Linked DNA regions of Homo sapiens. The protein of the gene in region 2 purifies or fractionates together with the protein of the main gene of each other region. This does not show direct contact. Each region holds a gene or a part of one and is shown on either strand. Other genes may lie near its edges. The genes, in order: NDUFAF7, METTL2A, MCCC1 and ID4.

Region 1 (7,000 bases), on a different chromosome or scaffold from region 2:
CAGGCATGAGCCACCACGCCCAGCCGCATGTTTACTTTTTAAAATAAAATAGAAATATGGCAACTAGCTTTGTAAGTTAAAGGAAACTCAGTTTCACAATAACTTATTAGCTTGAGCACACATTTGCACCAAAGCCAGTCACAACCCTAAAAGTTCTATAATGTTGGTTGTATTATATACAACATGGACTGTTCTTGCTGTGAAAAGATAAAATACTTTGACTTTTGTTACCTGCAGTATATGAAATGTGTTTCCTTTATTTTGATTTCTTGGGCCGACTGAAGGGTAAAATGTCCAAGCTGAAATATCACTGCCAAGCAAGTTCACTAAACCCAGCTACAACGGATGCAAAGGGTTTTGACTGACGTGCATTCCTCTGATATCTTCCACCTTGAAGTCTCTGATGAGGTAGCAAGGCAAAAAAGTTAAATCTCTCTCCCATCTTCTTTGGATTCATTAACATATCATATCCTTGAAGTAACTGCTGCCTCACTGATGGCTCATTTGATTTATCTAAAAGAACCTGAAAAGAAAAAAATTCTTAGCAAAAATAACCAGAAGACAGGATTCCTAGTTACATGCAGCAATACTAATGACTCTCAAATATTCCAATAAAACAGCACTCAAAATGTGACTTCTGATTACCTGCCTGAGAATCATAGAGTACTTATTAAAAATGTAGATTGGTGTGAAACAAACCTAAGGATTTGCATTTTTAACAAATATCCTCAGGGGGTTTGATCTACAGTAAGGTTTAGGTGTTCTCAGAAGAACAGTTAGAAAATTCATACCCATAAACGCAGTTTTCTTAACAAACAAAAACACTATTTGGAAGTCTTAATGCTACCTCCCATGGAGATGCATAAAACTTACCAGACTAGTTACTAAATCCTATACTACCTGAAAAGACTGGAATACCAAGGATTGGCTAACTACAAGAGCATTAAGGCCAGGTGAACATACTATTTAAAGTAATTTTTGAAATACTATGAAAGTACTTAATAACAGTGAAATAAAATAAACCTTACCTTCAGCCGGACATCAATACCCATATTTTTTAAAAATGTGTGTTGTTTTATTGGGCCCAGAGAGGCTACTTTTCCCTGTGCCATTCTTCGCAAATAACTGAAGTCCACATCAGCTGTTAGATCTGCTGTTCCTGGGGCAATTAAGACATCATGAAGCTTGTGGTCGCAAAACCCCTTGAACATAAAGAAATCAGATTTTTGCCCTTTTATGGTTATTAAGATTAAAGAAATGCTATCATATTAAAGTTATTTAATATTTACATTAATGCTTGAGGTGACGGAATAGAGCTCTCATTAATTCTCTAGGCAGGGAACACCTAGGCAGTGTTTTACAAAGTATATGCATCAACCATGCATCAGAATCACCTGAGATACACTACAAACTACTACACAGCCATAAAAAAAAATGAAATCACGTCCTTTTCAGCAACGTAGACATAGCTGGAGGCCATTATCCTAAGTGAATTAATGCAGGGACAAAACCAAATACCACATGTACATCTCACTTAGAGCTAAACACTGGGTACACGTGAACATACTTATGGGAACAAACACTGGTGACTACTAGAGGGGAGACAGGAGGAGGGGAACAAGGGCTGAAAATCTATCTACTGAGTACTATGCTTGCCACCTGGGTGACAGGCTCACTCGTACCCCAAACCTCAGAGTCAATGCAATATACCCATGTAACAAATAACAAACCTGCCTCATGTACCCCCTAAATCTAAAATAAAAGTTGAAATTACTTAAAAAAAAATCACCTGAGAATATATTACTGACCCTAACCAGACCTGGTCAGTCAGAATCCTGGAGGTAAGGCTAGAGAATGAGTATTTTCAACAAACTATCCAGGTTATTTTTAGATAAAGTTAGAAATTAAGAACCACAGACCTAGAAAATGACTAAGAGCATTTAGTTAAATGTTTTTCAATTAAAGTATATTGAATAGAATTGATTATATTCAAAGATCATTAAGAAAGGATGTTTAGGAACAGTGTAAAAGAATACATCTGGAAAGGGAAAAAATGTTGAAAATATGATAGAAAAAGCTAGAATGATTACAGTAGGTAGTTTAAATCTGTAAAGAAGTACCAAAATTTTTCTTGAATGAAGGGGGTTACAGATAGGTTTAAGAATGTGAAGAAAATCTTTCCATTTGTATTATTCAGCTGCTTATCTGGATTTATATAAACATAGGTTCTACAACTAAGGAAGAATGTACACAATTCAGATCCTGTTAAAGGAGGGCTGGACAGTAGACTCAGTGTTAGCAGTAAGAACTAGGGTTAAGGGGAATTACAATAACATGAATTAATGTTAACTATAAAATAATGTAATACAACAATACCAGGCACTGTAGAAATCAAAGCTCTTCAATGGGCTTCAGATCTAACACTGAAATTCTGATAAATCATGTTACTGAATTATACATACTCTGAAGGTATCTGTCTTTGTTCCATCATGACCATAATCAGCAACCAGTGCAGCACCTCCAGTTAATGCAATGCGTTGAGAAAGTTCCTCGATGATAACACCAGCATCAGGACACACTTCAACATGATCCCTTGTTTCGTCATGCTAGTAAAGGGATCATTGCAAGAGTCAAAATGCATCATTCAAAAGAATGACTTCCTTACGGTTTTTCAGGTTTTTCCTCAATGAGCATTTCTTAGTTTTAATAAAAATAAATTCTTAATATGAGTATGTTCTCTACACTCAACTTTTCACCTGACTCCCTTTTTATTATACAAAACTCCTTAGTTCTTTGATGCTATCCCACTTGATATACAAAGACATTTTAATCTCTTTTATAAAAAGGCAAATGCCCTCCCAATCCCCCCAGATGGCCTAGAGCATTATCATTTAATGTAAAATTACTTTTGTATCACAAATCATATAAACACATTCCTCTAGGTTGAAAGCATGGGAAAGGGATTTTTTTTGTCTGCCTAGAACAGTGCCAGGCACATAACAGTCAATGAAAATATTGTGCTGAAAGAACAAATGGTATAAATCCAATAACACGAAGCAGACCCTATTAGACAATTATATTATCATGCCCTCTGTTGTGCCAGAAAGTATCCCAATGATATGCCCTACATCAAGAAACGCTGGCTTATAAACTAGTGCCAATGTATTGAAACCGTTATTACCCCAAGATGTCCACTTAACTAAGGGGCCACAATAAGTGTGTACTAGCTTAAAAAGCAAAATCACACTAAGTATTAACACTTGTCAACCTGACTAGTATATATGAAATTTCACTACTTCCTGATCTGATTGAAAATGTGGTATTTCTTTCCCTTCATTATGAAAACATACATTAACTTGTACTCCTTCCTAACACCTTATTATAGAAATGCAGTAATGACCTGCCCTGATGTCTGCCTATGGTAACAGGCATAGAGTCAGATGAAGTTAAATCTCAGCTCTTCCTATGCTTACTGGTAGACAAGTTACTTAAACTTTCTGAGTTGTTTTCTTCCTTATAGATATTGTAGGTTTATTGTGAGGATTAAATATAACTAACCATTTAGCTAATAGTGCAATCAAATTACTGTGGCTTAACTATAAAAACCATGAAGTCAGCCTCATCAGGCATCAGTGGACACGCTGATCATGCTGACATTCTATCTTAGGCTACTCTTCAAGATGACATGTATTACCACGCATCTCATTCAAGTGAAAGAGAATATTCGCTCCCTCCCTTCCTAAGTGAATACTAATTAGGTCAAGAACTAAATGAACTCCCAGGGCCAGGAGGTTAGTTCTTGGTAGTTCTATGAATATGTCATTCAGGTAAACTTAGATTGCTATACTATGAAAAAACAGGTGTTCATAAGTGTTCAGTCTGACATTTAAATTTATACTTAACAAAACTTAATTCATACATTTAAGTTTAAAAGCTCTTGTGCTTTTAAAACTGATAATTTCTAAGTAAGAAGTTCTCAGTTAAGGTCCAGAAAGTAAAAATCATCTTCTGAGCTGGAAAAAAAGGATTAAAAAAAAAGAGGCAGTCTGAAGCCTGGACGTTCCTGAGAAGTACAGGGATTTTTTTGTACCTTTAAACAAGCCACAATAGACAGGCTCTTGCAATGATTCCTTGAGATCAACAGAAAGCAGTAGTAATTCTACCATTCTGGCCGAATCAAACTGAGATCTGTGTGGAAGCATGGGATAAAAGCCATGCTGTAGCCCAAAGAAGGATAATAATAGAACCTACCTAATATAGTTGCTTTGAGAATTAAATGAGAAAACAGAGTAACACAAAGTACTCAACAAACGTTAGCTGTTATTGTTAATTTACTATAGTCTGTACTACATTGCTTTCACAGATGTAAACTCTTCCTGTGGACAATACCATTACCATTTGACATGAAACTGAGATAAGCAGTGAAAGTAAGAGACTTGGCTGAGTAAGCGGTTACTTACTTTCTCTTACTACATGACGTTAAGGTCACACACTTAAGAAATGATTTTAACCCATGCTCCTGCCTCTAGCTCCTCTGCACTTTCACTGTCAATAAAAAGCACCTCGTATGCTACTAGCAACTCTTCCTGTAAAGGAACTCTAAAACTCTAAAGTAGTAACTCAGAAAATAAGACTTTGAAGATTCTGTGAGCAATAAAAGAAACTTAAAAAAGCATATTCTTACTTGTATGAAGGCTTCTGCTGGGGTGGCAGAAGGTGCCAAAACAAACCTCAGTTTATCAGAAACCTGTGGATCAATGTCAACAAATACTTCTCGCCATCCCTGTGGTGTTTTCTAAACACAAAATAACACATAAAAACAAATTTTTGCAAGTTTGTTCTCTACATTGCTTCTACCAAAAATAGCTTTTTCTCCTCTTACCATAAGTAACTAACATTTACAGAGAACTTACTATTTAAAATTACTTAAATTCATTACTTCATTGCCTTTGAACAATGAGTAGACCAATCGATGCAAAAGAAACAATAACAGAGATGACGCTGTGGAAGATAAAATCAGCAGCATGGAAAGTACCCCAAAAACGGAAATAGACTCAGGAAGAACAGCCAGAAGCTTTACTAACAAATTACTACAGGATCATGAGAGCTGCTCTTCTCCTCACAAATTACCAGTACATATACATTATCACCAAATCTTAAATCTCCTCACAGAAAGAATGAAGAAAAGTTTTATTATTTTTTTTTTGAGACAAGCTCTCGCTTTGTTGCCCAGGCTGGAGTGCAGTGGTGCAATCTCAGCTCACTGCAACCTCTGCCTCCTGGGTTCAAGTGATTCTCATGCCTCAGCCTCCCTAGTAGCTGGGAAGTACAGGCACGTGCCACCAAGCCCAGATAATTTTTCTATTTTTAGTAGACACAGGGTTTTGTCATGTTGGCCAGGCTGGTCTTGAACTCCTGACCTCAAGTGATTCACCCACCTCGCCCTCCCAAAGTGCTGAGATTACAGGTGTAAGCCACCATGCCTGGCCCAAAAAAGTTTAATCTATAATTTTTTAAAATGTGCTAAGGTTGGCTGGGTGCAGTGGCGCACACCTGTAGTCCCAGCTCCTTGGGATGCTGAGGCAGGATGAACACTTGAGCCCTGGAGTTCAAGACCAGCCTGGGCAACATAGCAATACCCTATCTCTTAAAAAAGAAAATTTTTTTTTTGCTTAAGTAAATCCTTCATTGCACCACAGCCAGTTACCATCTTACCATTTTTCATTCCCTTACTTCTTCAAATCAGAAGAATTAAGAATTCTTAATAATTATCCCAGGAGAACTAACAATTCTCATTAATATTTCATTTTTTGCTTTTGAATTATTTGTGTACCAAAATTCCAAATAATAGTTAAAAATAACCTCAACAAGTAAAATTTGTATACTGAATAAATACCATAAACATTGGCAACACAATGCCTTTTGTATTCAATTATAGACATGACTTTTTTCCCCCCTCAATACCTGAAATTTATGCACAGGAAGAACATCAAAAAATTCATGTGCAAGATAAAAGCTGTACCCTATTTAAAAAGAGGAAAACAATTAATGTTTCCACATTTCACAGGAATTAATTCTTTTGAATATTAACTGTAAAAAAAATGCCTACTTCCTCCATAATCATCACTACCACAGAATTATCTACCTCTTCATGGAAAACTTACACTGCAGAACATAGAACAATTATTACTATTCTTATTTTACACATAAATGGGGTCAGAAAATGGAAATACCTGAAATAGCAGTTAAAGCTTTTATTCATCACAAGGCTTGAAAGAAATTAGAAGTCAGAGTTGTTAGCTGGAAGGGAATTTGATTTCATAAAATCGGGCTTCTCAGCCTGAGAAGGCTGAGGCAGGAATGGCTTGAGATCCCTTACCCAAGATCGTACCCCCACTTTGGCTTTGAGTCAAGACTCAAACTAGTCAATACTAGTCAGTATTCCTGACTAGTACAGGGATTTTCCCCCACACCTTGCTTGTCTTTAGGCAAGTAAGGATTTTTTAAAAGACTCTATAACTGAACTAAACCCACCTACTAACACTGCTTCCATCAGCCCCAGCTGCCTTGGGCTGCTCCGTCATCGGTACAACCCTAGCTATAGGGAAATACTCAAAAGTACAAAGGAGATTTACATTTTGTTTGGGATTTTACAAAGCTTCATGAAATAAACTACTACTTAATGTCAGGCAACTTTATTTTCTATTAAGATGCTCTTTTCTAGAAAAAAGTAGGCTACTCTCTATGGATAAGGGACTTGGCAGCAGTAACTCAATCTATTATATTGCTGTAAAAAGTTACAGTCCCATCAATACTGTGAGGGTTGTGATCAAAATTCTTTCATTAATCCACATAAAGGTAATTACCTTTTGGAACATCGTGCAGATCTCGGTACCAGGAAATTGGAATCCCAGACTTAGTGACACCTTTCATATACACTGGGGATCCAGCATTTCGCTCTAACGGGACCTTCTCTTTAGTCAGTGTCAATGCTTGAATC
Region 2 (7,782 bases):
GCAAGAGGGTACTCACCCATCCATTCATTCATCAATTATCTACTGAGTTGCATACTGTTTGCCAGACCTAGTTCTAGGACCTGGACATATAACAGTTAACAAACAAGTAAAATGACTTAACCTCACAGAGCTTAGTGATGGAGCTAATTATAACCATTGACTCAGCAATTCCTCTCCTAGAAATTAATCATAAAGAAATAATCATGAATGTACAAAATTATTTCATTACAAAGATGTACACCATGTTGAATTTTTTTCTGTTTTTTTTTCTTTCTTTTTTTTTTTGAGACAGAGTCTCACTCTGTCACCCAGGCTGGAGTGCAGTGGCGTGATCTCAGCTCACTGCAACCTCCGCCTCTAGGGTTCAAGCCATTCTTCTGCCTCACCCTCCCGAGTACCTGGGACTACAGGTGCGTACCACCATACCTGGCTAATTTTTGTATTTTTAGTAGAGACGGGGTTTCATCATGCTGACCAGGATGGTCTTGAACTCCTGACGTCGTGATCCACCTGCCTCGGCCTCCCAAAGTGCTGGGATTACAGGTGTGAGCCACTGCACCCAGCCGTTAAATTTTTAATAGTATGAAACTTAAAGTGACCTAAATGTCCAATAAAGCATGATATAGCTATACGAAACAATACCAGAAGGACATTAAGTGATGTTGTAAAAGAATATTTCGAACAAAAGAATAATGTCCCCAAGTTATTATTAAGTTAAAAAGCAGACTACAACTGCTAAGTGGCATGGGAGAACTTCAAGGCGTTGTTCTAAAACTAGATTGTGACACTGATTACACAAATACAGATTTTTATGAAAATGTATTGAACTGTACACTTAAAATGGATGAATGTAATTGGGTTTTCTTGTTGTTGTTGTTGTTGTTGTTTGAGACGGAGTCTTGCTCTGTTGCCAGGCTGGCCTGCAGTGGCACGATCTCAGCCCACTGCAACCTCCGCCTCCTGAGTTCAAGCGATTCTCCTGTCTCAGCCTCCCGAGTAGCTGGGATTACAGGCACCCACCACTGTGCCCGGCTAATTTTATTTATTTATTATTTATTTATTTATTATTTATTTTTTTTGTGTGTGAGAAGGAGTCTCGCTCTGTCGCCCAAGCTGAAGTGCAGTGACACAATCTCGGCTCACTACAACCTCCAACACCCAGGTTCAAGTGATTCTCCTGCCTCAGCCTCCTAAGTAGCTGGGACTACAGGCGTGTACCACCACCCCTGGCTAATTTTTTGTATTTTAGTAGAGATGGGGTTTCACCATGTTGGCCAGGATGGTCTCGATCTCCTGACCTCGTGATCCGCCCACCTCGGCCTCCCAAAGTGCTGGGATTACAGACGTGAGCCACCACACCCAGCCTAATTTTTGTATTTTTAGTAGAGACGGGGGTTTCACCATCTTGGTCTGGCTGGTCTCAAACTCCTGACCTCGTGATCCACCCACCTTGGTCTCCCAAAGTGCTGGGATTACAGGTGTGAGCCACTGCGCCCAGCCAGATGAATGTAATTGTTTAAAAAAAAAAGCACAAAGCATTTTGTTCTGAAACTATTTTAATGTAAAGTCACTTACATAACTAAATTAGAAAGAAAGAACTGGGATGATATAAGCCAAAGCGTTAATGAGTCAAATTAATGGTGGGAAGAAGTATTTTCTTTTGTTTTATCGATATCTTCTAAATGTTCTATAATAAAAAATCTATTTTGCAATAAGAAAACACAGGCCAGGTGCAGTGGCTCATGTCTGTAATCCCAGCACTTGGGGGAGGCCGAGGCAGACGGATTGCTCAAGACCAGGAGTTCGAGGCCAGCCTGGGCATCATGGCAAAACACTGTCTCCACAAAAAATGCAAAAATTATTGGGGTATGGTGGCACAAACCTCTAGTCCCAGCTTCTCTGTTGGCTGATGTGGGAGAATCACTTGAGCCTGGGAGGCAGAGGTTGCAGTGAGCTGTGATCGTGCCACTGTACTCCAGCCTGCGTGACAGAGTGATGCCCTATCTCAAAGAAAAAAAGGAGAAGAAAGGCCGGGTGCGGTGGCTAACGCCTGTAATCCCAGCACTTTGGGAGGCTGAGGCAGACGGATCATTTGAGGTCAGGAGTTCAATATCAGCCTGGCCAACATTGTGAAACCCGTCTCTACTAAAATGCAAAAATTAGCTGGGTGTGGTGGCGATGGCCTGTAATCTCAGCTACTCAGGAGGCTGAAGCAGGAGACTGGCTTGAGCCCGGGAGGTGGAGCTTGCAGTGAACCGAGATCATGCCACTGCACTCCAGCCTGGGCGACAGAGCTTCGTCTCAAAAAAAAAACAAAAAACAAAAAAACACAATTAACTACCCTTGTCCTTGGCTAACAACCTAAAGCAATAATCCAGAATGAGAGTTTTTAACCTTTACAAGCGTTAAACCCATGCCACCCACTGAGCTAGAAGAGTTCTCCTTACTTACCACCAGAGGGACCCTTAGTTCCTCTGAAACGTGGCGTTTCTGAAGCTACAATCCAGTATAAAGTCTGACACCAGAGAACTCACAGCCATGTCAAACTTATGAAAAATTATTTTAGGTGCTTCGAAAAATAGGTTTTACAGGCCAATCAAATATAATTGTATAAAATTAAGTTTAGGCCAGGGGCGGTGGCTCACTCCTGTAATCCCAGCACTTTGGGAGGCCGAGGTGGGTGGATCATGAGGTCAGGAGATCGAGACCATCCTGGCTAACACGGTGAAACCCTGTCTCTACTAAAAACACAAAAAATTAGCCGGGCATGGTGGCGGGCGCCTGTAGTCCCAGCTACTCGGGAGGCTGAGGCAGGAGAATGGCGTGAACCCGTGAAATAGGGAGCTTGCAGTGAGCCGAGATCACGCCACTACACTCCAGCCTGGTAGACAGTGCGAGACTCCGTCTCAAAAATAAATAAATAAAAATAAAAAATAAAGTTAAGTTTAGGATACTTTAGCACATTTCACAGAAAAAAGGCCAAAGCTGTTTGACATTTAAAATGTCTCCACTGGAACTAATATAGTAAATTAGAGTGAAGACAATGAGCTGTCTGCAAGAAAATATGCAGTGGGACTGTTGATTGGGAACACTAACAGCTTTTAGTGAGGGGAGAATAAAAGCCCATAGATGAGAAAACAAGATGCCAGAAATAAATGTAAATCAACCACCATATCTGCAAACAGCTGGCCTTGAGAAAAGATAAAAATTCCTTGTACTTGTTTCTGGGTATGGAGCTTGTGTTCAAAATGTTTCCGAAGACCACAAGAATGGCAAAAGCATATTGTCTTCAAATGAAGTACAACTTATTTACTATTTTTTTTATTAACTTGTGTATTTTTCTTCCTGATTAGAGAGGCTTAGAGCTTGTTCCCATTTCTTTGGAGGAAAAAGTATAGAATCATTCATTGCTCCCCGTAGTTTTACCTACAGAAAGAATTTACAATGGAATAAACAATTACTGGCTGGGCGCGGTGGCTCACGCCTGTAATCCCAACACTTTGGGAGACCGAGGCGGGCAGATCATTTGAGGTCAGGAGTTTGGGACCAGCCCAGGCAACATGGTGAAACCCCATCTCTACTAAAAATACAAAAATTAGCTGAGTGTGGTAGCGCGCACCTGTAATCCCGGCTACTCAGGAGGCTGAGGCAGGAGAACCACCTGAGCCCAGAACATGGAGGTTATAACGAGCTGAGATCCGGCTACTGCACTCTAGCCTGGGAAACAGAGCAAGACTCCGTCTCAAAAAAAAAAAAAAGTACTAATTACCCATGTGCTATGTCTAGCACTGCACTAACCCTTTCCTTTTTTAAAAAAATTCATCTTTCCCTTTATTCTGACATTATGACATTAAATAAAGTCCAAGAGGTATTGGGCTGGTCCTTGTTTGGTCTCTGCCCTTTCCTTCTTTTCCAAGTGGTATTCATCATGCTTCTCTTGGAAGTCTTCTCAAATAACCTTATGTCTATAACATACTTTCTTCTAGATTCTTTTGAGAGTCTATTTGTGTTAGATCTAGAAATAGAAATGTAAGGCTGAAATGTATTACTATGACAAACTGTTTGTATGTGTGTATTACAATCTTAATTGTGCTAATAAGGATAATTATAATAAATATGCATGATTCAAAAAGGTTAGATGGTTATAATTTAAAAAAAAATTGTCCTTGGATATTCCATTTGATTTGCTAAGCCTCGTGTTCTCTAATTTCATATCTCCATCTCCCCCTACCCCAACCAAAATATATATACACACTGTGTATACATATACACCCACACTATTAAGAGCTGAATATAGAAGCTGGAAATTGCCCTGTTTCTTCCCGCTGCTTGCTACCTTCTTCAGTTCTGGACATCGGCTCCGCAGTGGAACTAGGTAGCCTCAACTCTTATAATGATTCAAGATTTTTCCTGTTTTATAACTTGAGGGAAGCTGGGGAACCTGTTAAGAGGATCCCAGCATTGAACTGGGTCTCAAGTGGAATGTCTCCCACTTTCTGCCTAACCTGCACGTCCATCAGCACCTCATCAATGAGAAACGACTCCTCCGGGGAGAATTTCCCCCTGCCTGGTCCCCTCTCCTAGAGAGCCCTTCGCCAACCCTGGGACAGCCCCAAACGACAGCTCCCGAGCGCCACCCGGACCAGACTCCAGTGCCGCCCTGTCCCGCCACCCTTTTTCCCGCCCAGACTCCGCGTCTTCTGAAAGAGGGCGTGGTCCGCAGGAAGTTCTCACGTTACGGAAAGTAAAGTGTTTCCGGCTCCGGTGTCATGGCCGGCTCCTACCCTGAAGGTGCACCTGCAGTCCTCGCCGATAAGAGGCAGCAGTTCGGAAGCCGGTTCCTGAGAGATCCGGCGCGCGTCTTCCACCACAATGCCTGGTAATCACTCTGCCCCTTCGCCCGGCCTGTCGCTGACCCTCTGTCCCGCCGCCTCGGAGCACTCCGAAAAGCCCCTGACCGCCGGCCACGAGTCAAGCTGCCCTACCCGAGGCACTCTCCAAGGGGAGAGAAACTCCTAGGCCAGCGACTCACCCTGCCCGCAGCCAGGACGTGAGGCCCCTAAGCTGCCCGTTTGATTTTCTCAGGGACAATGTGGAGTGGTCGGAAGAGCAAGCCGCGGCGGCGGAGAGAAAAGTCCAGGAGAACAGTATCCAGCGGGTGTGCCAGGAGAAACAAGGTGCGCTTAAATGGGCTCTCATTGGTATCAACAGCCAGCGTACTGCCGAACGCGCCCTCCCGGAGAGGCCAGGGAACCGCGGCCGCCCAGATCCTTTATTCCTGGCCTGATGCAGATCTCAGGAGTAGAGCGGGACAGGGAGGGGATGAGCAAGGAGAGAAAAGGGCTGCATTGTAACAAAATCTTAAGTCGTAGAGGGTTTTTTTATATATAGTTTTACTTTGGAGGAGGGTAATGTTGTCTTTAATTATGTTTAGTAGATCCACGTTGATATGGCTAGCCAATGACAACTGTGTGGTCACGCGATCATCTTAGAACCTGTACTTTTTACTTGATTTGCATTTTCCATGAGGAGATGTTTTCCATTGAAGCTTCATTGAAGTGATTAGATTCTAAATATTGTTGGGAGGGGGGCTAGTGACTGGTGACTGTGTGTCTATTACTTGTGTGATGGTTATGAGAATTTAGGGCTTTAGTCAAGGAAAGGTGGATGCAGCAGAGTGGAGATAAGTCTGGCCAAAGAAAAGGAGGCCCCTGCTTGAGAGGTGGATGATTTCACTGCAAAATATCCCTAGATAGTAAAACTAGGACTGATTGTTCCAGACAATTGAAGATAGGACTACAAATTTAGTACCCGCTGAAAGAGTTCTGTACAACAAAAAGATTCCAGTTACAAAACATTCACCCTGCATATTTTGACAGCAACTAGATCAAAGCAAGTTAATAGTTGAAAGGGATTTTGAAAATCATGTGGTTCAATATTCTCTTTTTATAGTTAAAGACACTTGGACCACAGGACATTAAGTGCTTTTCCCAGAGGTAAGCAGTCAGTAGTAGCAGTAGTGGAACTAAAATCCTGTTTCTTAGGGAGTCTTGGTTGATTCAGCAGGTGAGTTGTGAGTTGTTAACACACTTCTTAGTGGATTCCAACTTCCATTGTCACTGTCCTGCTCAATTTGTTAGGTTTTTATTCTTTCTACTACACTAGTCAAGGCCCCCTGAATTGGCAAGAGCAGTAAACTGAAATCTGGGACTGTCATGATCACCTTAAAAACAGCCTTCATTTAAACTGTCCATACTTTTTTTTTTTTTTTGGAGATGGAGTCTCGCTCTGTCACCAGGCTGGAGTGCAGTGGCACGATCTCAGCTCGCTGCAATCTCCTCCTCCCTGGTTCAAGCGATTCCCCTGCCTCAGCCTCCCTAGTAGCTGGGACTACAGGTGTGCACCACCACGCCTGGCTAATTTTTTGTATTTTAGTACAGACGGGGTTTCACCGTGCTGGCCAGGATGGTCTCGATCTCCTGACCTCGTGATCCGCCCACCTCAGCCTCCCAAAGTGCTGGGATTACAGGCATGAGCCACTGCACCTGGCTACTTCTAGGATTTTTTAATAGTTAAAAGTCATCTGGCTGGGCGCGATGACTCATGCCTGTAATCCCAGCACTTTGGGAGGCCGAGGCGGGTGGATCACGAGGTCAGGAGATCGAGACCATCCTGGCTAACACGGTGAAACCCCGTCTGTACTAAAAAATACAAAAAATTAGCCGGGCGTGGTGGCAGGCGCCTGTAGTCCCAGCTACTCAGTAGGATGAGGCAGGAGAATGGCATGAACCCGGGAGGTGGAGCTTGCAGTGAGCCAAGATTGCGCCCCTGCACTCCAGCCTGGGTGACAGAGCGAGACTCTGTCTCAAAAAAAAAAAAAAAGGCATCCAAAGATGTAGGAGGACACTTGATAGATAGTAAGTTCTCTGGTTGATTGTTCAAACAGAATTTAGACTCTCCTATAATGACGGATAGGGGCATTAGGGTATAATGCCAGATGGCAGGACTAAATGACCTCAGAAATGCCTTCAGTTCTGGGACTGTGGCTCTACCTGAGGATACTTTTAGTATTAAAGTGACATTTGGTAAAGCAGGATAATTGATATTAGATATAAATAAAACATTTGAGAGCTGGTTCTTAAAATTTTTTCTTAAATATTTACAGTTGATTATGAGATCAATGCCCACAAATACTGGAATGACTTCTACAAAATCCACGAAAATGGGTTTTTCAAGGATAGACATTGGCTTTTTACCGAATTCCCTGAGCTGGCACCTAGCCAAAATCAAAATCATTTGAAGGACTGGTTCTTGGAGAACAAGAGTGAAGTACCTGAATGTAGAAACAATGAGGATGGACCTGGTTTAATAATGGAAGAACAGCACAAGTGTTCTTCAAAGAGCCTTGAACATAAAACACAGACACTTCCTGTGGAGGAGAATGTAACTCAGAAAATTAGTGACCTGGAAATTTGTGCTGATGAGTTTCCTGGATCCTCAGCCACCTACCGAATACTGGAGGTAACCTTTTATTGTCTTGGTAGTGGGATATGTGAAGCTATTATATTTGTGCACATGAGGTAGCATAGAGAGGCTGACAACAAAAGTAACTTCTATTGGATGATGCTGACTAGACTTGACCCTTATATTAGCCTGGAATCACCTCCATTTTTGAACTGATAAAATGCCCTCAATGCAGACCAGATATCTGGTAGTCATGACGGACAAAGATCACACGAGAATAGCATGTCACTTCCAAAAATTGTATTAATGGCATCATGC
Region 3 (7,031 bases), on a different chromosome or scaffold from region 2:
TGCCTAGTTACATAGTTTCTAATGCACACGCTGTGCTTTTATCTTGTGCTTTGTGAATAATCTAAAATGGTTAGTTAGTCCTTTATAACCACATCTTCCAGGTATAGACAAAAAGATAGGTGGAATTGCTTCTGTAATTTGTTTGTTTCCCTGCATATGCTTTTTATTTATTTATTTATTTTTTTTTTTGAGATGGAGTCTCACTCTGTCACCCAGGCTGGAATGTAGTGGCACGATCTTGGCTCACTGCAACCTCCACCTCCCAAGTTCAAGTGATACTCCTGCCTCAGCCTCCCAAGTAGCTGAGATTACAGGTGCGCACCACCACACCTGGCTAATTTTTGTATTGTTAGTAGAGATGGGGTTTCACCATGTTGGCCAGGCTGGTCTCGAACTCCTGACCTCAGGTAATCCCCCCACCTCAGCCTCTCAAATTGCTAGGATTACAGGCGTGAGCCACTGCACCCAGCCCACTTATCCTCTTTAGCTGAAACTTAATAGACGTTATACTTTTTTGTTCCTAAAGTGAATCTGGCCTGTTTTCTGTCAGCTCTTGGTTACTTTATTTTATACACAGGTATCACGAAACTTAAAAATTGTTGAGACTTCTACCTCATTAAAATACCTCAAGTCATTTTGTCTCCCCATTTCTCCATTTTTTTAAATACAAGGACTTGGAATAGAATTGTATAGTACTTTTAAATCTGAGAGGTACCTTCAAGATCACCTCTTATAGTCTCATCTCGTGTGTGAGAACACTGAAGCCCAAGCTATTAAATCTTGCATCCTCAACTGGGATGATACCACCGCTAAAGGGTGGAAATTGATTCTTAGGAGAGCCAGGAAATCTTAGATTTTGTCATGGTTTACGGCTTTCCAAAGCTCAACCTTACCCCACCCTTCCTACAAGGAATAAAATCTTTTAAAAGTTTTCTCATTAGGAGAGTAATAATGAAAAAAAAGTTGGAGAAACACTGATGTAAAGTGACTCGACCCTGGGCAAGCTGGTCATTGGAGGGACTCGGATGAGAATGCAGCTTTTCTGGTCCCACAGCCAACATTCTTTCTGTTGCCCCTGTTTAACTTCCGTTTATTTCTCTGGTCTTACTTTTTAAACATGTCTCATGTTTAAACTTGATTGGTATTTTTCAAACTGTAGATTGACCAGCATATTTTAATAAAATAGGATACAACTGAAAGAACCAAAAGAGTTTTGTTCTTTTTGTTTTTGTTTTTTTTTTTGAGACGGAGTCTCGCTCTGTCACCCAGGCTGGAGTGCAGTGGCCCAGTCTCGGCTCACTGCAAGCTCTGCCTCCTGGGTTCACGCCATTCTCCTGCCTCAGCCTCCCGAGTAGCTGGGACTACAGGTGCCCGCCATGACGCCCGGCTAATTTTTTGTGTTTTCAGTAGAGACAGGGTTTCACCGTGTTAGCCAGGATGGCCTCAATCTCCTGACCTCATGATCTGCTTGCCTCGGCTTCCCAAAGTGCTGGGATTACAGGTGTGAGCCACCGTGCCTGGCCAGGGCAGAATGAGTCATTTTTAACAAAACATCTGTTTTCATTAAGTGTGTGTCCTGGGTAGTTTGTATTGTGAGTTGTAGCCAAAAAGGTTTCAAAAAAGCTAAACTAGATGATGTTGGTATACCTTGGTTGTTTAATCATCTCTGACTGTGGTCTTATGCCAGCCTCAGGAACAAGCAGGCTAGGTGACTCATTCAAGGACAGGTAGTACGAGGGAAAACAGCCAGAACTCTAACTCTTGAGTTCTAGATTAGTTTTCTACCCACTAAGAAAGTCTTACTAAAGCACTGTTAGTTGGCTTAAGGTTTCATGTTTTAAGAAACTGAAATTCTTTTGAAAGAACAATTGTGTTGCCTATTCTGTTTAATTGTAATTCCTTTTGGATTTATGTTATAGGACATGGGTGTGGAGGCAAAGAACCATGAAGTACACAACAGCCACAGGTACTGACAGACTTTGTTGTTCTATTTGATTTTGCTTCAGACTGGAAGTGTTTAAGAAAGGGAAATGTTTAATCCCTTAATATATGCATAATAGAATTAGTTATCATAAATTTTGGATTTTCACGATAATTTTCTAGGAAGTGTTAAGTCATGGTTTTCACCTCTTTTGTATCAAATCTCTCTTGCTGTTAAGTCTAAAATACAGAGGGCAGCCGGGCGCAGTGGCTCATGCCTGTATCCCAGCACTTTGGGAGGCTGAGGTGGGTGGATCACCTGAGGTCAGGAGTTCGAGACCAGCCTGGACAACATGGCAAAACCCTGTGTCTACTAAAAAATACAAAAATTAGCTGGGCGTGGTGGCGGGTGCCTGTAATCCCAGATGCTTGGGAGGCTGAGGCAGGAGAATTGCTTGAACCCAGGAGGCGCAGGTTGCAATGAGCCAAGATCTCGCCACTGCACTCCAGCCTGGGCGACAGAGCAAGACTTCGTCTCAAAAAAAAAAAAAAAAAAGTAAAAATAAATAAATAAAATACAGAGGGCAATAATGGAGAACATTTTATATTCGTTTGTTCTTTCTGTCCATTTGACCCTCTTAGTGTATTGGATTGGAAAATCATAACTACGATGGTCTAAAGCAGTTCTTTGAAAAAGCTATTTTAAGTAGCAAAACCTTTTTTTCCAAATAAAATTTAACATGGAATTCCCAACTATGAAACATATAAAAGTGTAATAAAGTATAACTTCTAGCTGATTGGATATAGCCCTCTACCTACTGTGCTCTCCTTCCCCTGCCCACACTCATACATATGTCATCCATCAGCCCCTGTGACAACTCTTGGGCTCCATAGAGCCCCATCGAAAAACACTTTTAAATTAGGTGCAACCTTTTTTTTTTTAAAAGGAGAAATAACTTTATTATGTTGAGCCTATGGATTCTATTGAAGAAATAACTTTATTATGAACTGTCAAAGAACATTTATTTCACGTGTGATATTAGAAGTACATTTTATATATGCAGTAGCTTGTCATTATGGTGCCATGCCAGTAGACTGGTACAAGAGTCACTTGTGTTGCAAGAGAACCACACACACCTATGTACATAGGGATAGAGGCAGAGGAGCAGAGTGACTGAAAGCTTAAATTCTGGAGTGACGCAGATCTAGGTTGAAGTCCCAGATTGTTTCTTTAGCTGTGTAATTTTGGGAAAATAATAGCTCTTTCAGCATTAGTTTCTTCATCTTTAAAATTGAGATAACAATGATAGTATCTATTTCATTAGGATTATTGTGAAAATTTAAGTCGATGTTGAGTCTTTAGCACAGGACCTGAGGCACAGAAAGTGCTTATTAAAGATTAGTTAGTATTGGCCGGGTGTGGTGGCTCACACCTGTAATCCCAGCACTTCGGGAGGCCAAGGCAGGTGGATCACCTGAGGTCAGGAGTTCGAGACCAGCCTGGCCAATGTGGTGAAACCCCGTCTCTACTAAAAATACAAAAATTAGCCAGGCGTGGTGGCAGGCACCTGTAATTTCAGCTACTCAGGAGGCTGAAGCAGTAGAATTGCTTGACCCTGGGAGGTAGAGGTTGTAGTGAGCCGAGATCACACCATTGCACTCCAACCTGGGGGACGAGAGCAAAACACTGTCTCAAAAATAAATAAATAAGTAAATAAATAAATACATAAAAGAGTAGTTATTAATGATGATAATTTAACACTATTATAATTTGATCCTTGGCATAACAAAGCATCTTTTAATTTTATTTTATGTTGCTTTGTATTTTAAGTTTAAAAAGCTGAGTAATTTATGTTAATGAGTACCTTGAATTTAAGAGAAAAGAAGTGCACTGTCTAATATTAGTTAAAGTGGTCATTTTGGGCTCAGTTATGCTAGTTTTACCAAAAACCTTGAACTTATCAGTCGAGTCCTTATCAGCCAGTTAAGATCGTATTCTCATTCTCATTCTTTGCTCTCCAGTAACATTTCTGTGTGATTTTCATGGTGTTTTAAACAGGAAGAAACATTACCAAGGTCCTCATTGCAAACAGAGGAGAAATTGCCTGCAGGGTGATGCGCACAGCCAAAAAACTGGGTGTACAGACTGTGGCGGTTTATAGTGAGGCTGACAGAAATTCCATGCATGTAGATATGGTATGTGTTAAAAATTGGAAGCCACGTCTTACGTTTATTCGTTTACTGTGTCAGTATTTTCGTTCTTTATGATGACAGTTGATATTTGCTAGTGTTATCAGGGTTGAAGTAGGTAAGTTCAAACTGCTCACTGCTAATTCTTGGGAACATTTTTCAGATATAACATCAGTTGAACTAAGCGGTGTGCTTAGTAGAACAGTTGATTTACAGGCAAGGTCTTTATCTCCTTGAGGATTGGTTAAAACGGTTCACAGAATGTTGCGGATCCACTGACTACACTTTGAGTAGCTCATGTCCAGATTCCGTATATACAAGGAGAAAGATCCAGGCTCTATTCTTTTTTTTTCTTTTTTTTTTGAGATTGAGTCTCGCTCTGTTGCCCAGGCTGGAGAGCAGTGGCACAATCCCGACTCACTGCAAGCTCCGCCTCTCAGGTTCAAGCGATTCTCCTGCCTCGATTCTCCTGCCTCGACGTCTAGAGTAGCTGGAACTATAGGTGCCCTCCACCACGACCGGCTAATTTTTTGTATTTTTAGTAGAGACAGGTTTTCACCGTGTTAGCCAGGATGGTCTCAATCTGCTGACCTCGTGATCCGCCCACCTTGGCCTCCCAAAGTGCCAAACAGGCGTGAGCCACCGTGCCTAGCCAATCCAGGCTCTATTCTTAGCACCTGCTACTTACTGGCTGAGTGATCTTAGCCAAGTCACTTCATGTTTCTGAGCCTTGCTTCATCTGTAAAATTATAACTAATAAGACCCAACTCCCTGAAGTTTGTGAATGTTACGGGTGAGTTATTACTAGTTTTTTTTGTTTTGTTTTGTTTTGTTTTGTTTTTGTTTTTGACAAGAGTCTCACTCTGTTGCCCAGGCTGGAGTGTAGTGGCGTGTTCTTGGCTCACTGCAACCTCCACCTTCCAGGTTCAAGTGATTCTCATGCCTCAGCCTCCTGAGTAGCTGGATTACAGACACACACCACCACGCCTGGCTACTTTTTTGTATTTTTAGTAGAGACAGGATTTCACCATGTTGGCCAAAATGGTCTCGAACTCCTGGCCTCAAGTGATCCACCCACCTTGGCCTCCCAAAGTGCTGGGATTACAGGCGTGAGCCACTGCGCCCAGCCTATCACTAGCTTTTATCCACCAGAAATAACTCCAAGCATAGGTGACTCCCACTGTTGGACTTCATTATGCCTGCAGTAAGACTCCAAGCACTAGCATCAATTCATGATGAGCAGCCTCACCTGGGCTTTTATCACTGTACAGCAGGCCCTTGTGGCTCTCTAGCCACTGTTTTTCTCACTCTGTGCAATGAGTATTTCAAACTTGTTTCGCTTCATTCCAACCTCCAATTCTCCCTCTACCCACCTTTTTGCAGCAGGATGATCTTGATTTCACAGAGAAAATAAAATTGAGGTTCCTGCCACAGAATCTGCTGACTTAGTTATGTCTGCATCCATCTTTCCCATCGAAGGTCAGTGCTCTGGATCCCTTCTCTTCTTGTCTTTTTAAGAATTTTCCCGGCTGGGCGCAGTGGCTCACACCTGTAATTCCAGCACTTTGGGAAGCCGAGGCAGATGAATCACCTGAGGTCAGGGTTCGAGACCAGCCTGACCAACATGGAGAAATCCCGTCTCTATTAAAAATACAAAATTAGCTGGGCGTGGTGTCACATGCCTGTAATCCCAGCTACTCGGGAGGCTGAGGCAGGAGAATCGCTTGAACCCGGGAGGCGGAGGTTGCAGTGAGCTGAGATCGTGCCATTGCACTCCAGCCTGGGCAACAAGAGCGAAACTCTGTCTCAAAGAAAAAAAAAAAAAGAATTTTCCCAAAATAAGAGAGTAAATTTTAAATGTCTTACCATGAAAAAATATTAGGTAAGTGAGATGATGCCTAGGTTAATTGGCTTGATTCAATCATTCCACATTGTGTGCATGTGGCAAAACATCACATTGTACCCCATAAATGCATACAATTATGATTTGTCAGTTAACAGTATTAATAAAACATAAAGCAAAATGAGACATTCCTGTGTCAAAAAGAAAAGGATCTTCTATTTTTCAATGATGGGTCTTCAACCACTCTCTACTAGACTGATACTATCCATGTCCCTAAATCCAGTGGAGTCTCCAGGGCTGAGCTGACTTGACCCCTCAGCAGCATTTAGCATCCTAGTACACTGCTCCCTTCTTTTAGAAATAAATTCTTCTCATGGCATTCTCAGCCTCTTGCCTTCTTGTCTTCTCTCAGTGTCCTTTATCTGGACCCTACCCATCTACCAGACCCTACCCATCTACCAGACCCTTATGTTGAAGTTTCTTGGGACTTGGTCCTTGGCCCTCTTTTCTCAGTGTGCACTCTCATTCTGGATCATTTTATATACTCCTATAGCTTTGAGAAAAACTCCCAAATTTCTATTTTTAGTCCAGACTTTCTTTTGAGCATGATACATATATATCCAACTGCCCATTCAACATCTCCACTTCAATATTGTCACAGGTACCAAACTAGTGTGACTGAAATTGAACTCATGACCTTTCACCTATACTGAACCTGCATTTCTTACAGAATTCCCTAACCCCGTAGAGTACAACACCATTGCTAATAAAAACAATAATGTCAGAGATCTAGAAGTCTTTGAGCATTTTTCTCTCTTCTTTCCTACTCTAGATCCTTCCCCCCTCATCTAGTAAATGACCAAGTACTGTTAATTGTATTTCCCAAACATTTCTTTCCACTTCTTTCCACCCCCTCCCACCTATAACTTAACTCAAAGCCACAGTCACCTTTTTTTTTGAGCCAGGGTCTCACTCTGTCAGCTAGGCTGGAGTGCAGTGGCACAGTCACAGCTCACTGCAGCCTCAACCCCCCAGGCTCAAGCAATCCTCCTACCTCAGCCTCCTGAGTAGCTGGGAC
Region 4 (7,304 bases), on a different chromosome or scaffold from region 2:
GGTAGCAAGCAGAGAACATTTTTTTCATTTCCATGATTTAAATAATCTGTACAGACATGAAACTTAGTGACATTAAGCTTTAGTGTAAAATGAAGAGTAATAAGCAATTTTTTTTCACTTTGATAAAACAGCAGATTTCGTAAACTCCTTAAGGATCCAAGCATTTCCTCATCCCATATGCAAAATCATTCAGAATCCATTTTGACCTCAGTTGAAAAACAAAAACAAACACTTACTCTGTATATATTACACTATAAAACCCTGTACTTAAAAACTGATAAGGTGTATTTTCAACATGTATGCTTCAAATACAAAGATTTCAATCTACATTTAAAAAAACACATTTGAATGGACTCAGAACAAGTTTAATTTGTGATTAAACATCTCATGCAATCATGCAAGACCACTAGCTATAACTGTTACTTCCGAGTCTATACTGGGCAAAACAAAAGCAAATTAAGAGCCAGGCCAAACAGAAAAGACATTCAAGATATCAAGAGCTCTGTAATTGAGCTGAAAAATGATTTTCCAAAAGAAATATTCCCATAGATTAAAAAAAAACACACACATAATATTTACAAAAAAATATTTAATTAAAAATATCTTATAATTACAGTATCTATTAAAGCATATACTTTCTCACACTTATAGAACATCTCTATATATACATGGTATGAAATGTCACTCATTTATCTATACAATATGTAACATTCTTGCAGAGAAAAGAAAGTTCTCTGCCCCGTTATAATCATCTATTTTAAACAATAGATGTAAAAAAAAAATATCTACAATGCTCTGGTAGATTAGTAAAGCTTCAAAACAAAAATTGAGCTCCTTGGTCACAAAGTAGGCTTCTAAAGTCGGATCTACTCTTGATCTTCTATTTATCAGTCCTGTCACACTTAAGCTTAAAAGTTTAACTGCACCTCCAAAAAACACAGAAATGTACAATTCACAGCAGTTATAAATGAAGAGACAAAAGAGAATACGTATGTAGAATGTTTATGAACGTGCAAAGAAAGAATGAAAGTTGTATTTTTCTTTCCTCTCTCTCTCTTGGAATGACGAATGAAAACGTTTCTAGGTTGGCCGATGTTTTTTCCTTTCCTCCGGTGGCTTTTTTTCTCTAACTTCTGCTCTTCCCCCTCCCTCTCTAGTGCTCCTGGCTCGGGCTCAGGCGGCCGCACACCTGTGGAAGAGGAATGAATAGAGGGGGTGTGTGAACCTTCTCGCTGCAGACTAACTGGCGCCACCGACCAAACTCAAGACATGCTTGATCAACAACCCAAAACAAACCACCAGGTCAGACAACACCCGCCCGCGGCCGGGCCAGGCGCCGAGCAGGCAGCTGCGGCCCTCGGGAAGCCCGGAGAGGGGACCCACTCCGGCGCCCTGCCCGCGTCCCCCTTTGTGGGTGACAGACTGCACGGGAGGACACCGGGGCAGCTCCCATGCCCACGAGGGTGCCCTCCCTCGGGAACTAGGGAAGGCAGAAGAGCCCGCTGACCACCAGAAAAAACACGGGGACGGCGGGGACAAGGGCTGACCCGTCTCCACCGAGACTGAACCTCGAGTTCTAAGGCTAAGTACGGGTTTACTTGCTACTTAGGTGGCAGGGAGAGAGGGGATTTACTTCCTTGGGAGTTTGCTCTCAGAAACGCTGGGGGCAAAGAACACCGCGGTGCCTGGCCCCGGAAGCCCTCGGGGACGGGCGTCTCTGGTGACCGGCCACCCGAGACGGGAAATGCGCGCTCACCTGGACAGCGCGGCTCAGCGGCACAGAATGCTGTCGCCCTGCTTGTTCACCGCGCCGGCCTGGAACAGCAACCGAACACCAAGGGAAAGGTTAGCAGGCGCAAACAACGCGCTCGACACGGTCCTGGATTGTCCTCGGAAATCAGGCTGGCGCGCCGACGCCCCCACCCCAGCCTGTAGCCGGGGGGGCCCCTCCGGGCTCAGGCGGGACTTGACAGCCCAGGGCGCCCACAGCCCCGAGTCCCGCCCTGCGCGTTCTCCCGGACCCGCGCTCGCCGAGCCCGGCCGGCTGCTGGCGGCCCGGGGGAGCCCGGAGGAGCAGGGGGAGGGGGCTGTCATTCCTGGCCCGCCCCTGCCCGGAGGACGGTGAGCGCCCGCGTCCCGCCACCACGCCACCAACCTCCCATCCCCCGCGGCGTCCGCCCACGGCCGGCGCCCGGCCTCTCACCGGGTCGGTGTTGAGCGCAGTGAGCGGGGTCCGCGGCGGCGCGGCTGGACAGGTCCCGGCCGGGTGGTGTGGCGGCGCGGGCGGTGGTGGCTGCCTCAGCAGGGCCGGGTGCGTCTCCAGCGCCAGCTGCAGGTCCAGGATGTAGTCGATAACGTGCTGCAGGATCTCCACTTTGCTGACTTTCTTGTTGGGCGGGATGGTGGGCACCAGCCTCCGCAGGCGGCTATAGCAGTCGTTCATATCGCACTGCAGGCACAGCGCCGGCTCGTCGGCCGCCGCCTCGGCCGCCTTACAGCGCGCTGCCGCCGCCGCCGCCGCCGCGGCTGCGGAGCCACCCAGGCTGTGGCCGTGCTCGGCCAGGCAGCGCAGCGCCAGCTCCCCGCCGCCGCAGCCCGACGGCGCCTTGCGGCCCGAGGGGCGCACCGGGCTCACCGCCTTCATCGCGCGCGCCCTGCGCTCTACGCGAGCGAACCCGCTGGGGCGAGCGAGGGAGGCAGGCAAGCTCCGGGCCCCGTCCGCGGCCGGCTCCGCTCCCTTTGCCTCCGCGCCCGGCGCGCTCGGGGCACCGCGACACTCCCGAGCCCAACAATTGACGGGAGGGTCGCTCTGGGTTTTACGAGGGAATCTTTGCTCAGTGGGCGACACTCAGCCCGAGCCCAAAGGAAAAAAAAAGCAAAAGCACCGGAAGAAAAGTAGCCCACCCGGGTGTCCTAGTCACTCCCTTCGGAGCTCCGACTAAGCCCGATCGCGGCCGCCGCGCTCCCCTAGCCCGGGATCACCCCACTCCCGGTACTACTCACAACCGCGCCTCCTCCACTACGCTCTCGCCCGGCCCGCCGCGCAGCTGTATTTATAGAGCCGTGCGCCCCGGGGGCGGGACCAGCGCGCGGGCCGGGTCGCAGCGCGAGCCGAGCGGAGCCCGCTGGGCGCGCGGGCGGGGGCGCGGAGGGAGAGGCGAGGGCGGGGGCTCCGGGCGGTGCTGGGGGGCGGGGAGTCCGGCTACCCGAGTGGAGGAGTGGGCGGGGGGTCTGGAGTGGCCAGCCAATCAGGCGGGCAGTGCCACCTCGGGGAATGACGCTCGGGCCAATGGGAAGGGCACTCCATTCCGTCAACGCTGTGGGTCGGGGTTCTGAGAAAAGAGAGCTGAGTGGGAGTCGGGCCAGGCTGATGTGTGCCCAAGGGAGGGGAAAAGAGAGAGCGAAGTTCCTGCGAAGAACTGCGGGAATGTGCGGCCGGAATTCACTCTCCACCGCCCCCCTTATCCCGACTAGGCTGCTGAGGGAGCGCCTGGGCCCTGCTCGCGGATACCCTGCCACTCCTAATAGCACGGCGCCCAGGGACCCTCCGCCACCCATCACTCCATCCGTGGGATTCCAGTGCCTTAAGAAAGACGCGCTGTTCAAGAAGGCACGTTCATTCTGTTCTATATTTCCCTCCTCCGTTTCATTATTCGCCTTTTCACATTTGCCGAAACCATAATGATGGAATGGAATGTGTAGCCTTTCCGTTTTCTTTTTAAAAAATGCTAAAGCTTAGCAAAAGTAGAAAAAAAAAGAAGGAAAAGAATGCCGAATCGAATGCAGGTTTTTGGTGAAGGGAATATAAATAAAACAAAAACGTGGGGGGGGTTCTTTTACCCCATCTAAATGCAAAAGTGGGCTCAAGAAATGCAGTTGCCTTGCGCATTCAATTAGAGCACGTAAAGATTAAAAATGCATGGACACGGAATATTTAAAATTCCATTATGACATATAATATTAATCTGTTTTATGTAAAATTCATACCTGTAACTTAATTTAGGCCATTAATGCACAGCTTCACGTATTAGTCAGCGTACCCCGCTTTAAATAAGGTGATGAGAATGTCCAGAGTCGCCTCCTTTGACAGCAAAGCATTAAAATTCACACTTCCAGTCTCTGGGATCCCGCTTGGGCCCCACCCTGCAAAAAAAAGCCTGTTAATTAAGGGCGTTTTTGTGTTAGATTTCTTAGAGAAAAGCTGTCCTTCAAGGGTTCAAAATAAAATTGCACAATGAGCTTTGGTGGAGCATTGTGTGTACCCTTCAAGAAAAAATTGAGCCCTTCAGATGAGAAAGGTGCATAAAAATTCTCAGACAATGGGGAAATGAATTTTGAGTGCCTTCACTCTACAAACCCTCCCACCTTTAGACACGCTTGGAGATGAATTAACCCAAGAATTTTCTTCATTCGTGTACATGACATGGATTGGTGTCTTCATTTTCATAGATAATTGAAAGAAAGAGACATGGACCTCATTTCTTCCTGTCTACCCCTATATGGACTTTTTCTACATCCATTCCCAGAACTGAAATACCTGCACCAGGCAGATATTTTGTTTAGCTATGTCAGTGCTTTATGACTATCGCACTATTCCCCAGAGCACATTCCTTTCTCCTGATGAAATGAGGAGCAACTATTTAATTCTGGTTTCACAGGTAGATGCAATAACCCTCCTCTCCCCTAATCCTTGTATGTTACTGCTTCTAATAATTGTTTGGAAACAAGTGCCATTCTCATTTATTTATGTGCATACGTAGATGGTCTACATACACATTAATCGAGAAAATCAGAATTATGAAACTCAGAAGGGCTTTCTTCTAAAGACAGGCATAGTCATATACATCATTAAATTAATGCAAATACAGAGAAAATGTTGTAATTTTAAATGGGAAGTCGGTGAAGCCAGCACTACTGGTTGTAAGCTATTATCTTGGAGCCAGTCATATGAGCACAGACGATAATAATAAATGGATATATGTACAGATGTTTTGTTCCATTGATCTTTCTCTTTCCTAGAGTTTAAAATTTGCTTCCAAATTCAAAACCCAAGACTTTCCTCTGTTTGGCAAAATAAAACTATGCTAATATGCCCAGGACACACTTACATTTAAACATTTTACATATCCTAACGATTAAAATTAAAATTTAAGTTTTGAATACGTAACACAAAGGAAGAATCATATCGACCTTTTTGGAATTTGCTAAATCTCAGAAAGCCATGCCTTGGGTGTGACAAGCGCCAAATGCCTAAGTTTCAGGTTTTGTTGGAGATGCTCTGTGTGACTGGCTTAAAGTTAGAAAGACTGAGTTACTCTGTGTGGGGTGGGGTGGAAGAGGTGGTTTCAAAGGAATGTACCTCAGCCACAAGATCAAGAATACCCAGGAAAGATGTGATCCGTAAATCCTGCTAGCAGAGTAGGCAGAGGCAGTTACTGTGCTCCTTGTTTTGAAGGTTGGAAGGCATGAAGACATTAAAAAATTAAAGTGCTACCATATACTATGGGAATAAGGAATACAATCCTGCACGTTTTGGTCCATGAAACCAGAGAGTACTAGGGGCTATGCAATGTATGTTTTTGTATTCTTAGACATAGACACTTACATGACATCAAAGCTGCAATCATGGAAGATTCCTGGCACTGATAATTCAAAACAGTTTACCCAATTATCACTCAGATTTTGGATAAACCTTACAAGCTATGTTATTTCTACTGTGCAGAGAAGGTAACTTAGTCTGTTGGTGACTCTTTTACATCAAAGTGTTTCACTTGCACTTGTAAAAGTAAAATGGGCTAACCCAAATCCTTTTGTCATGGAAATGCTCGAGACTCCCAAAATATACCTCAGTAGGAACCTAGAATGAAACATTCATAGGAGAATTGCTAGAAAGCCGTGATGACCAGAGTCATGGATACACCCTTCCTCCAGACAAAGAGGTCTGCTGTCCTCCCTGAGATGTATTCTAGCTACTAAATCAGGCCCTCACTGAACTGCAACACCCAGGCCTTTAGAAGTCATAGTCACCCTGTGTTTACATGAAGCAAGGGTATGGAAGCATATTGTGCTCTTCATTCCCAGTGCCTTTTTAGGACTTGATACTTGTTTCTCCATAGCCTCCAGGGAAACAGTGAGTGTACTCATACACAGATAAACGTGAATGTTCCAATGCCTTGGTCACTCTGTAGATTTGTCGTCACAGAAAGAGGCACATGCATTCTTTGAGGGCATAAGAAACCACTATGTACTCTGCAGCAGGACTGTCCCTTGCTCCCAAAGAGTAAGTTGGGCAATGTGGCAATTCAAGCTCAAGGCTGCTTTATCAGGCACTAAGTGTTACAAAATTACTTGTGCTACCCTTGGATTGCTGATACTAGTCCCGGAAATGCTGATAACCCCTTAGTTTGCTAGGTCCTGGAAAAGGCTTGTAGGAAGAGGACGTTGTACGTTGAACATGGCTGGGCAGATGTGGCTGTCAAAAATGCCTTGTTTGGGGAGTTTTAAAGGTAGTTGGTTTAAATAAGAAGTGACTTTTTGAAAGCCCCCCTTAGATTAAAAGACAGAAAAATGGGGAGAAATAAGTGGAATTTGTTTTTACCTTAGGAGATATAAACAGCATGGACTCTGAAGTGAGACAGCCTAAGCCCCAATTTTGGCCTCTTTGCTTATTAGTTTTATATCATTCAGCTGGGTTCTTAAATTCCTATACCTTTCATATTTGGAATGATTAAAATTGCATTTACTTCATAAGGTGTTTATGAGATACACATATTATATATATGGTCTCTGTAAAAGAAATTCAGTAAAGTTCTTAGAACAGTGGTTGGCACATAAGTGGGCAAACCATGTTACAATGTATTACCATTTTTGGCAAATATCTCTCAGTCTGTGGACTGACTTTTCATTTACTTCACAATCTTCTTTTAGAGCAGAAGTTTTGATTTTTTTTTTTTTTGAGACAGAATTTCACTCTTGTTGCCCAGGCTGGAGTGCAATAGCATGATCTTGTCTCACTGCAACCTCCGCCTTCCAGGTTCAAGCAATTCTCCTGCCTCAGCCTCCCAAGTAGCTGGGATTACAGGCGCCCACCACCACACCTGGCTAGTTATGTATTTTTAGTAGATATGGTGTTTCACCATGTTGTTCAGTCTGGTCTTGAACTCCTGACCTCAGGTGATCTGCCCACCTTGGCCTCCCAAAGTGCTGGGATTACAGGTGTGAGCCACCATGCCCACCCTAAATTTTGTTGGTGTCTAGTTTATCAGTTTGTTCCTTTATGGCTCATATTTTTGATATTGGATCTA

Evidence for each region.
Region 1: the proteins of METTL2A (region 2) and NDUFAF7 purify together in Homo sapiens (affinity purification with mass spectrometry; 2 studies listed by BioGRID and IntAct, with this or other methods). This does not show direct contact.
Region 3: the proteins of METTL2A (region 2) and MCCC1 purify together in Homo sapiens (affinity purification with mass spectrometry; 2 studies listed by BioGRID and IntAct, with this or other methods). This does not show direct contact.
Region 4: the proteins of METTL2A (region 2) and ID4 purify together in Homo sapiens (affinity purification with mass spectrometry; 2 studies listed by BioGRID and IntAct, with this or other methods). This does not show direct contact.

Annotation. Positions count from the first base shown.
Region 1 is NC_000002.12:37,241,658-37,248,657, reverse strand, and holds part of NDUFAF7 (protein arginine methyltransferase NDUFAF7, mitochondrial), read right to left. Parts: coding exon 6,867-7,000; exon of another isoform or gene 6,234-6,866; intron 6,024-6,233; coding exon 5,965-6,023; intron 4,796-5,964; coding exon 4,685-4,795; intron 2,607-4,684; coding exon 2,463-2,606; intron 1,203-2,462; coding exon 1,029-1,202; intron 524-1,028; coding exon 308-523; 3' UTR 1-307. UniProt on the Homo sapiens protein: Arginine methyltransferase involved in the assembly or stability of mitochondrial NADH:ubiquinone oxidoreductase complex (complex I).
Region 2 is NC_000017.11:62,419,134-62,426,915, forward strand, and holds the start of METTL2A (tRNA N(3)-cytidine methyltransferase METTL2A), read left to right. Parts: upstream 1-4,763; 5' UTR 4,764-4,769; coding exon 4,770-4,879; intron 4,880-5,085; coding exon 5,086-5,177; intron 5,178-7,165; coding exon 7,166-7,521; intron 7,522-7,782.
Region 3 is NC_000003.12:183,089,494-183,096,524, reverse strand, and holds part of MCCC1 (methylcrotonoyl-CoA carboxylase subunit alpha, mitochondrial isoform 1 precursor), read left to right. Parts: intron 1-1,916; exon of another isoform or gene 1,917-1,919; coding exon 1,920-1,966; intron 1,967-3,979; coding exon 3,980-4,116; intron 4,117-5,567; exon of another isoform or gene 5,568-5,589; intron 5,590-7,031.
Region 4 is NC_000006.12:19,833,095-19,840,398, reverse strand, and holds the start of ID4 (DNA-binding protein inhibitor ID-4), read right to left. Parts: upstream 3,030-7,304; 5' UTR 2,645-3,029; coding exon 2,204-2,644; intron 1,816-2,203; coding exon 1,771-1,815; 3' UTR 1,757-1,770; intron 1,190-1,756; 3' UTR 1-1,189. UniProt on the Homo sapiens protein: Transcriptional regulator (lacking a basic DNA binding domain) which negatively regulates the basic helix-loop-helix (bHLH) transcription factors by forming heterodimers and inhibiting their DNA binding and transcriptional activity.